Linked DNA regions of Homo sapiens: region 2 is reported to be linked to region 1. Evidence: microRNA targets listed by miRTarBase, many of them from high-throughput screens and not tested one by one. Region 1 holds a microRNA gene; the other region holds the end of a gene's coding sequence.
Evidence for each region. The annotated mature microRNA hsa-miR-34c-5p reads AGGCAGUGUAGUUAGCUGAUUGC and lies in region 1 at 3,160-3,182, opposite strand. An mRNA with a match to its seed (bases 2 to 7 or 8) in the 3' UTR can be bound and repressed. Matches are read on the target gene's strand: a 7mer-m8 pairs with bases 2 to 8, a 7mer-A1 pairs with bases 2 to 7 and ends in A, and an 8mer does both.

Region 2: miRTarBase lists NOTCH4 as a target of hsa-miR-34c-5p. Seed matches in the 3' UTR shown: 7mer-m8 at 4,549-4,555.

Annotation. Positions count from the first base shown.
Region 1 is chr11:111,511,260-111,516,632 of GRCh38, reverse strand. It overlaps MIR34C (microRNA 34c), which reads right to left and starts at 3,194; the gene lies at 3,118-3,194. BTG4 (BTG anti-proliferation factor 4) reads left to right here and starts at 4,247. Exons shown (of 5, transcript NM_001367975.1): 1 at 4,247-4,452. HOATZ (HOATZ cilia and flagella associated protein) reads right to left here and starts at 1,855. Exons shown (of 6, transcript NM_001100388.2): 1 at 1,623-1,855; 2 at 1,081-1,122; 3 at 523-593. The coding sequence starts at 1,848. It overlaps MIR34BHG (MIR34B and MIR34C host gene), which reads right to left. Exons shown (of 2, transcript NR_147706.1): 2 at 2,745-3,615. It also overlaps MIR34B.
Region 2 is chr6:32,190,516-32,195,888 of GRCh38, forward strand. It overlaps NOTCH4 (notch receptor 4), which reads right to left. Exons shown (of 30, transcript NM_004557.4): 30 at 4,328-5,373. The coding sequence ends at 4,922. GPSM3 (G protein signaling modulator 3) reads right to left here and starts at 2,128. Exons shown (of 4, transcript NM_001276501.2): 1 at 1,957-2,128; 2 at 1,633-1,735; 3 at 1,194-1,393; 4 at 251-988. The coding sequence starts at 1,998. The coding sequence ends at 851. RefSeq lists enhancers at 1-42, 5,073-5,373 and a silencer at 429-607.

The DNA.
Region 1 (5,373 bases):
GGATCCTTCTGCCTCAGCCTCCCAAGTAGCTCAGACTACAGGTATGCACCAGCAGGCCTGGCAAATTAAAAATTTTTTTTTTTTTTGTAGAGTTAGAGGTCTTACTATGTAGCCCAGGCTGGTCTTGAATTCCTGGCCTCAAGGGATCCTCCTGCCTAGGTCTCCCAAAGCATTGGGATTGTAGGTGTGTACTACTGCACCTGGCCTCTTATGCTATTTCTGTTCTTAGAACACTGTATATGGTTGGGGACCTTACTGGATGGAAAGTGTGTGACTCTACCTCTTTCTATTTCTCTCTGGTTCTGTTGTTCCTATACATTCTTGGACTTTTGCTGAGATTGATAATAGCCAATGTTGAATAGAATTTTTAAATTTTCAATTAAAATTCTAATAAAGGTTTCCTTAATTTGCTCAAGCTGATGCACTAGAAGTAGCAGATTTTTAAATATACATGTGTTTAAAAAATCAAGATTATTTAGAAATTTAATGATGATCAGATGACCTTCTGAAATATTGGCCTACCTTTTGGAGATACTTTACTTTCTCCTCAGATTCCTGTATCTTTAGGGCTTCGGCAAAGATGTCTCTATTTTCTAGAGGGAATAAAGTCAAATTCAATCTGAAATAATTTTATTATGATTTTATACTAAAATTGATATAAAATTGGACATGGGTTGAAAGGGAATACATAGAGTAGGAAGGTAAACAAAAATACATGTGGTGTATTGGAACTTTACAAACCAGATTTGCAAACAACTGGAGACTGAGTTAATTAGCTATGGCTGCAGGGAACCTCTAATCTCTTTAGATGATGAGTAAGCTCGAGTCCAGAGACAAGAAAAAGTCTCGAAAGAGAGCATATCTGCAGGATCAGAGATTCCAATTTCTACATTCCTGTTCAAACTGTTAAAGGAATTTAGGCATTGTCCTCTGGATAAACAGGGTGGTCCCTGAGCAGGGACTTAGGTGTTCAATTCAGAAAGTTATACCACAGTGTAAAGTAGTACCCTTGTACTTATTGTCTATTTTCTGATGAACCTAGGAGTCAGAATGTTGAAAGGCATAAAACTTGGTACTTACTGTTACTCGCAAGGTGAAAAGACTGCGAGGAGTGGCTGTTTTCTAAAAAATACAAAAGGGAAGTAAAGAAATCATTGGAAAAGTCAACAACATTAAAGGCGTTTGAATTTTTTATACTATAACAATTGCATAACAGTTTCCACATCCTAGGCCTCACTAAGGGCTCACAGGTCCAGGAAGTTCATTGGTAATGTTGACTCCACCTTCATCTTTCTCCAGGGCTTTTCATGTTTGAATTAAACTATGTAAACTATCCTTTCAGCCAACACATAGCATTTCCTCAGATTATTCTATACTGTTTACCAAATAGATGCCATAATTTAAGGGAAACTTATATGTTTTTAGATGTAACATATATACCACTGATCCTTTTCGGGTGGAAGGGTTGCTGGAAGGGTTCAGGAAATATTTATACATGCATTTGTATGTACTTATAACTATTTGTATATACCATTGCAGTTTCTCCTGGAAAGGGCTCTGGTACCTGCAGGCCAGTTACGGTGAGGCAGATATGACTGACAGGAGGCCGCTATTCTACTCACCAGACCCTCTGCTCCTCCTGGGCCGCGCCACCGGCAGACGCTGACTGCTGTCTCTGCGCAGCACCAGCTGAGATTCGCTAGGGGGATACATCGACGCCGAGATCCAGAACTGCTTAGCCAAGTTGGCATCTTGTTCCGAGGAGCCAGCAAATACCAGTAATCCCGGGGGGCACATTTCCTGGGACTCTTTTCGGCCGCTAGGTTCTTCGCTGGGTCCCGTTTCCATGGCAACTGAGGACGCTTCTGCAAGCGTCCTCTCCCCTCCCCCCGCCCCGCCCCTGCCCCGCCCCTCCGAGAACCGCCAAGTTGGTACCAGCCCCTGCCGGCTGCCCTCGGTTTCCTAGGTAGGTGTTGGGATCCGCCACGCGCGTGGGGGCCGTCGGAAGCCCACCCCTGCGGTGATCAGGTTTTAGGACCAGTCCAAATCTTGGATATGGGAGAGTCAAAACGTCAACTTTGGGTTGTGTCCTGTCGGAGTCAGTGGGGGAGTAGTTTAGCTTCTTATATCCTCAGTGGGCTGCCACATCCTCTCCCCTCCCCCCAGAAAGATAGCTAAATAAACTTTAAATTCCTCAGCCCCATTGCCCCAATCCCCACTTCCAAACCAGATTGCCAGGGACAGCACCTGCTAGGTGGAAGTTCTGAGAACGTTGCGCTGGAGAATTCACGCCTGAAAGCCTAGCCCTTGGGAGCTAGAGGCCTGAACTGGGCGGATACGTGCCCATGTGTACAGTTTCTGTGATTTTAAAATTCTGAATCCTTTAAATCTTAGGAAACAAGCTGGATTTAAAGTGTAAGTGCATTTACTAATCACTCCCACTAAAAGTTGCATAGACTCCAACAGTTGTAAATGATTACTTAAAAGAAGGGATACATCTTAATGAGTGAACAGAGTCTCTTCATGGAAAAAAGAAGTATGAAAAATTTTGTTAATGTATTTCTTATAAAAGTATTAACAAGTCTGTGTGTATGAGTAGCTTTCCCGGGAGATTTTTGTCATGGCAGGAACAACTTAACCACTTCATTGATAGAAAAGTTAAGATTACTGTGGCAGGAACTGAGATGGACATCATAAAGTCAATTTAGCAAAGGAAATGGACACATAGCAATAACCACAATTTATGTCTTTATGGCACTTTATTCTTTCGAAATATTACTAACAATATTACTTTCAAAATATTACTAACAATATAGTCTCAAGAAGTTAATAATCACATGTTCATATAATAACATACATCAGTCAGCTAAGAAAAAAATCATATTCCCCCTTATATCTAAAATTTTGGTTAAGAGCCTGAAGGAATATTGAAAAAAAAACAAAACAAAACCCCACATACATACACATTACATACATTGTAAACTTAGTAGCTGAAATGTTGATTTTTTTCTTTTGGCTGAGCAATTAATAGGCAATGGATGAAATCAGCATTTTCCAACACCCCTCTTCCCCACGCACATTGATGATGCACAGGCAGCTCATTTGGACGAATTCCCAAATCTTTTTACCTGGCCGTGTGGTTAGTGATTGGTACTATTAGCAATCAGCTAACTACACTGCCTAGTAACTAGACTCATAGAAAAAATTGCAGTCTCAAGTTGGTACCCCAACACGTTGTGACAGGCAGGCAATTCATTGGTTGAGTTGGAGCTCAACTGAGTTGCTAGCTTGGTGAATACTCTACTAGACGATGGCAAATAGACACAGTGAATCACAGCATACAGTATTAACCGTTACATGGATGGAGGGGCTTCACCTCCAGGGATTTTGCTTTCCTGGCATGAGACTGTTTCATCTTCTGTGACTCCTAGAGAGAGCTAACAGTTTAACTGTATCTGGAGAAACCGCGGGTTTCCTCGCACTTGCAGCGGGCGCTCGCGGGGCAGGCTGCGCAGGACCCACGCCGACGCCGCGCTTCTCAGGCATCTTCTCTCGAAGGCTGCGGGCTGCCCGAGCCGGCGTCTTCTTCCCGGCCGGGCGGCGGTGATGCTGTGCCTTGTTTTGATGGCAGTGGAGTTAGTGATTGTAACCACCACAGTACAATCAGCTAATGACACTGCCTACAAACCGAGCACCGGGCACCCGCGGCTGCAGCTCCCGGACGGTCCGCAGCGCCGACGCGGGGTCGGGGCCCGCCTCGGACCCCATTTCACCGGGGGACGCCCTACCATGGCTGGGCGCAAGCGGCCCCCGAGGACACCCCCGGGCCCAGCGGGACCCCCGCCGGCCTCGCAGCGCACAACACGCGTAGCTGGGCCAGCGGGCGGCGCTGCCGGGGAGGACCCGCGCCCTCCCAGGCCGGGAGCCGCGCCCCGACCCCCATGACCCCCAGGAGTGCCAGGCCTCCCCTTCCCGCAGCCTCCCGCTCCTCTCAGGGCCCTCCCGCTCAGGTTCCCCTCGCTTTTCCTTTCCCCTTCGCCTCCTCGGCCCGGGCTCCCACTTCCTTCACGCCAGGCTTCAGTTCCCAGCCCCAAACCCTAGAGCTGGCTCTCTCGACCCCGTGCGCCCCGCCGCTCTGAGCGGCCGAGTGACTGTGGCGGGGGCGACCAACCGTCCTTGGAACCCCGCGGGCCGAGGGGCGGGGCGGGCGCGAGACGGGGCGGGTGGGGGAGGGGATGGGGGGGGGGAGGAGGCTGAGAGAAAGCGCTGTGGGCGGTCCCTGAAGGGCCTCCAAGGGAGACGCCTAGAAGATGGAGGCCCAGATTCTTGAGACGTTTCTCTTTCTGATCTAGCAGGAGGGACAAAGAGCTCCTCCACTCCCTCATTCCCCAAGAAGGCCCCCAGCCTACCCAGTTTCCGTGACCATTCCGCCCTGGGAAAGCGGCTTCCCAGGTACCTCAAATTATAGGTTTGAATTTTCCAAATGGAGGTGGGCTTGGGTAGCCTCTGACATATGGGAGGATGGCTTGGAGAGTCTCATCTGCACCTCTGTGCTCTGTTGGGGACTTGGCCTTATACTCTTAGAGGGCCATGCAGTGATGTGAAGCCTGGGCCTTCTAGTCAAATAGTGAGCCAGGCAGCTTGTTAGTTACATCAAATCGTGGTCCTCTTGAGATCAAGGCCATACCATTCAAGACAGTATATATATAATAAATTACTAAACTAGGGACTATTTAGAATAGTAGAAACTATTTGTATCAGAAATAGAAGGGAGGTCCTCAATGAGAGCTGTAATAGGTCAAAGAAGGTTCCCAGAGGAGGTGAGACTTGAGTAGATCCTTGATGCACGAGTACATTTGGATATTCAGGGTTAGGGCTGTGGATGCCAGAAAAACAGTATCTTGTGACAGTTGGGCAAAAGGGACAGTTACAGAGGACTTCTGGGAGATCTCTGCTAATAACTTTCCTTCCCCTCCTTTGCCTTTAATGAATTAATCAGGAGAGGATAAGGAATGTTCTCTTTATCCTCACCTTGTGAAATTCAGCTGGAAGCAGCCTCCCCTAGAAATATGGTCTTCATGCATCCAGTATAGAGCACCCATTGCTGACACCAAAGGCTTAGTTCTAAATTAGTTTCTGCAAAAGAAAACTTCCCACCTATAGATTGATTCCCTAAAACCAGCAAATGGTCTCATAGATGCCACAAGTAACATGAACAGGGGCAGGTCATCTGGATCATTCAATACAAACTACAAACTCACACTATTAAAACAACTAAAGAACTGCCCAAGGATGTTTGAATAAGTTATAGCATTTTCTTTGCATATGAAAGACAGCACTTTTTTTCCAAATGCATACTTTGTTCTGTACACC
Region 2 (5,373 bases), not on the chromosome of region 1:
GCCTGGGTTCACCGGCAGCTCAGTTCATATTTCTTGTTCTAATGACTCCCCTCCCTGTTCTACTTAATTAAAACCGAAGAGGGGGGCTGGGGGAGATAATTAGGGAGGTCTCCAGCCGCTGCTTAATGAGCCAGTAATTAACCAGCCGGGGAGGGGAGCTGGCCTCTGGCCAGACTGGGGAGAGAAAAGGCCTCTGGCCTCACCTTCCTACCTTTCACCCCGCCTGGGCCCCCCAGATACCAGTCTGCAGTCCAGAGGGGAATTATATTTATTCACACAACCAAAACATCAGACAGACTCAGCAGCAGTGGGGAGGGAGGGTGGGCAGGGCTGAAGGTCCATTCACAGCCCGTAAACCCCTCAGTCTCAGGGATCGGGGGTGCTGGTAGTGGGACTGGGAGAATAGTCTTAATCTCTCAGGTGCCCACCCACCTTCCCTTCTTACTGGGAGGAAGGGTAGAGCTGTCTCTCAGGTTATAACCTCTCAGGTGGAGGCCTGAGCCCTCAGACCCTACTGCCTAGTAGCTTGACAACTGGTGGTGTCCCCACAAGTTAGGGAAAAGACTCCCAGCCACTCCTTGAGATGGGTGCCTGGGATCCCCCTTACTGCCTCAAGCTCCCATGGACCTGTGGGCGGGGAGTTAAATCCCTGTTCCATCTCGCCTGTTCCCAGAGTTTGAGGACTTTCACCCTGTCCAGTTCCCAGGGAAGGTGATGTGGGAGATGAATATTGAGATTTGTGCCGTGTCTTTCAGTCTCTGGTACCCCTGCCAAGCAAGAGTTGAGGGCATGCAATGGGCTGCCCAGCTTTGAGACCAGTGGCAAGGAAGGGCTGGTTGGGGCTCAAGTCTCAGCAGGTGTGTGTGGGGGGCCGGGACCTTTGCTCCTCCATTCGACCCCCACCCTGAACTCTCAGCAGCAACTCCAGGAGCTCTTGCCCCCCTGGAGGGAGGGGAGGCTCTGACCGCTGGGCTTCCATCCGCTGGCACTGGAGGAGTGGAGGGAGAGGGAGAGCTTTGGTGAGGGTCTGAGAGGAGGAGGTTCTTGAGAGGATCAAGGGTTGGTATGGGGAGGCATATAGGAAACCTGTGAAGGCGATGGGGTGCCTAGGGAGAAACAGGAGTAGAGCCCCAAAGAGAACAGGGGCCAAGAGACCAGGAGGCCTGGGTTTGCCTCCTGGGGGGATGTCTTACCTGGTGACTGAGGATAGTGCTGTAAAGCTGTTCTCTGTCCTCGAGAGGACGGAGTGGGGCAGGGGCTAGGCTTGAGGGGTTTTGGGGGGTGTAGAAGGTGGCCCTCTGCTCCTCCAGGCGGCGGGACTGGGCTTCAGCCACCAGGTCCAGAAGGAGTTCAGTCTGCAGGGAGAGCAGGGAGGCCGAGCGGGGTCCCAGGGCTGGGGAGAGGGGTGTGGAGGGCTCAGAGACCCAGAGAGGTTGGCAGACAGGAGCCGTGGGGGAGTGTGGACAGGGTGACGTGATTAGGGACTTTGGATCAGAGGAGAGGGGGTGCAATGGGGAATCCCAAGGGGAGTCTGGAGGAGGTGGGGAGAGGGCCCACAATGGAGTGGGCCTTGGTAATGGGGTCAGGATGTGGGCACTAGGGTCGGGGCTCTCCCTGGGTGGGTAGGGGTACCTGTGTGGCGGGTCCCTGGAGGAGGAGGGGATGGAGGAGCAGATCGCCAAGGCCGAGTGGTGGAGTTTGGAGGGGGCCAGCCTTCCTCATCCTGAGGGGGGCCCTGATGCCAAAATATGTCCATTCTAGTCAAGCAGTGGTGGTTGAAGCGGGAGGAGTGGACAGGGGGCTAGGCCAGTGGCCCGTTTCCTCTCTGTGTGTCTCTGTTCCTGCCTCAGTTTGCCCAAGCCTTTCAAGGCCCCTGTGTCCCTACATTTCTGCCCCAGGTCCTCTCACCTCCCTTCTTTCCCAGTGTCAGCCTCCCCAACCCCGTGCCCAGCTCACCTGCTCACCATCCTCTTCTTCCTGGGGTCTCTCAGCCTCCATCCCCTAGAGGGGAGAAACTGGTGGGGGAGGGGTGGCTGGGATTTGGGAGGAGGGCTGGAACCTTGGGTTCCTGAGGGGAGTGGGGGCTGGAAGGGGTGGGGGTGAGCTGGGGGCTGGATGCCTGGGTACTGAGCAGGAAGCTGGGTTCCTGGTCAGCCCCCCCACGGGCCCCGCCCATCCCTGTCAACTTCCTCCATTCTCTTCCCACCCAAACAGCTTGTTCAGTCTCTCTCGCCCCAGGGCAGCACTGAGACTGGGAAAAACTCCTCCAGCTGCAGGAGTGGAGGGGGCTCATGGTGGGGAAGGACTCCTGGCGGTCTCATCTCCAGAGCCTCAGTAGTCCCCTAATCCCTGGCTCTGCTCCCTCCACCCCACCTCCTCTTCTGCTCTTTCTGTCAACACAGGAACTAGCTACACAGGAAGTGGTTTCACTCCTCAGAATCCCCCTCCCCCCAGCCAGGTCCCTTCCCTCCCTAAGATAGACCCTGGTGTAGGATTTGGCCCTCCCGATCTTCCCTCTTACTTACCGGGACTGGGAGGGGCATGGTTCCAGTGGGAAGTGGAGGATTCAGATCCAGGGATGTGGAGCTCTCAAATATATACATAAAACCCTAGCACCGGGTCCAACACATAGTAAGTATTCAATATATATGTATTGAATAATCATCCCTGACCTCTAGGTATTTAAAATCTATTCAGGAGATGGCCGGCTGCGGTGGCTCACACCTGTAATCCTAGCACTTCGGGAGGCTGAGGCGGGTGGATTGCCTGAGCTCAGGAGTTGGAGACCAGCCTGGGGAACATGGTGAAACCCCATCTTTACTAAAATACAAAAAATTAGCTGGGCGTGGCCACATGCGCCTGTAATCCCAGCTACTCAGGAGGTTGAGGCAGGAGAATTGCTTGAACCCGGGAGGCGGAGGTTGCGGTGAACTGAGATTGTGCCACTGCGCTCCAGCCTAGGTGACAGAGCGAGACTCCGTCTCCAAAATAAAATAAAATAAAAAATACACTCTATTCAGGAGACAAGATGTGTACCAAATAGAGTACGGGAAGGGTTCATTTTGGAAACTTATAGTTTAGTGCAGACAAGGGGCAGGGGAAATTTTATTTTGGGCATAAGAGATATAGATATGGAACAATGAGAGGCTGAGGTAGGAAGATTGCTTGAGCCCAGGAGGTTGTGGCTGCAGTGAGCCATTTGTGCCACTGCACTCCAGGCTGGGCAACAGAGCAATACCCTGTTTCAGAAAAAGAAAGAAATGAAATGAAATTGAAAAGGGAGAGGACTACCTCTCTGGCTTGGTCTTTGATCAATGCTAATCAGGCTGGTTGGCATCAAGGAAGGAGCAGGGCAGACAACCATTTGGTACCTCTAAATGGCAACCTGTCATGTTAGGGAGTTTATAGCTGAGTGATTTGGAATGTGAAATGTGATGAAGAGATCTGGTCCTGCCGCTTATTCCTTGCAATCTTGGGCAGATCTCTGTGCCTCAATTTCTGAGTGAAATAGGGTTTTAATAGCACCTACTTCATAGGGTTGATGTATTAATAATGTAATGAAGCACTTGATGCATAGTGAATACTTAATAAACTGTAGATATTATTGGCTTTCAAAATGCCTCATGACTCCATGTTTCAAACCTAGCAACATATTGCTGCAAGGTGGACAAAGTTTCAAGATACTCTCTCCATCTACTTGACTTGTGGCCTTAGGAATCTCCTAAGTGGCCATAAGTAAAAGCCCTAGGATGAGGGACAAAGTGTGTGCATCATCTAGTGCAGTGGTCTCCTACCTTTTTGGCACCAGGGAAGAGTTTCGTGGAAGACAATTATTCCATGGTCGGTGGCGACGGAGGGCTGGTTTCAGGATGAAACTGTTCCACCCCAGATCATTAGGCATTAGATTCCCGTAAGAAGCGAGAAACTTAGATCCCTTGCATGCACAGTTCACAATAGGGTTCGAGTTCCTATGAGAATTTAATGCTTATGCTGATCTGACAGGAGGTGGAGCTTGGGCAGTAATGCTTGCTCACCTCCTGCTGTGTGGCCCAGTTCCTAAGAGGCCATGGACCAGTACCAGTCTGTGGCCCAAGGGTTGGGGACCCCTGACCTAGTGTGTGCGGTTTCTCCCTTGGCTACTAGATTCTTGCTTTCAGATAATACCCTAAATTATCATAGGGCCCCTAAATATACTTATTCTTGCTTTTAAACTATACTTACATCCTCCATCCAATCCAAATGCTGAGCCAAAAGCACAAAATGCTGACATTATGCAGTCACTCCCATCTTTTTTCCCATTCTTCTCCCCAATTCCTCCAAAAAAAGGTAACACTTCAAATCAGCTTTATTATGGGTGACAGATTTAGGGTTCTTAAATAGCGATAGCAGTGGCTAGAAGAAGCGCTTCATCCCCACAGTGGAGTTCTTTGTTGTGAGGGGAGGGAATGCAAGGAGTCATCAGCGGGGGTGGCCCTTGGCCACTTTTCAGCACCTACACAGTGCCTGGCACATAGTAGGTGCCCAATAAATATTTGTCAGCCATTTGTGGGCAGTGGGGACAATGGATCATAGGGGCACCCTTTGGAAACCATATATAGGAAAGAACATCTTACATCCCATATGCCTGCAATTCTTGGTTCCAACTTAGGGGTATTTCCACTCCACTCTGCCCTCCTGTGGCCTGTCTTATTTTCTGGAGGAGGACTGGGCCTGCCTCATCCTAGCATCTTAAACCCTCTTTCCAGAGCTGCAGCTTCTCCACGTGGAAGATGTCTGCTCTGGTGGGCATACATTCATTTTAGGAGAGAAACTAAACTCACAACCCTTCATTTTGGGGGATCCATCTTAAAACCAGGAAGGCCTTCCAGCCTGCCTTTTAATGGGTAATCATTTTTGGAATTCCTCCCTACCATGTATTCTTCTATTTTTTACCCTCTCCTCCTTGGTTTATGGGCATTTCTTGGAGGGCTGGGGGACCACAGTCAAGTTGAGGTGATCCCCGCTCCGGGGACGGAGTAAGGCAAGGAGGCGGGATCGGAATGTTGGAGGCAGAACCGCAAGCTCCCAGGGCCACCCAATCACAGGGCCAGTCATCCGTTGAGACCCTGCCTCCGCGCCCGGCAGCCACTCCGTATCTTCCTCGCATTATCGCAGGGTTGGGCCGAGGCCCGCGCATGCCTGCAGAAAACCTACGGCCGCGAGGGGTCGGGCCTCCTCCTGCTCCTACTCCCGAGAGGCTCCGGCAATGAGAATAGGCCCCGCCCCCCCGCGCAGCCAAGTCTACGGACCAAGTCCGAGCCTGCAGACAAGCTCCGCCCCCACGAGGGCCTGCTCCGGCTGACAGCGTCCGGCAGCGCGGCAGAGCCCCGCCCC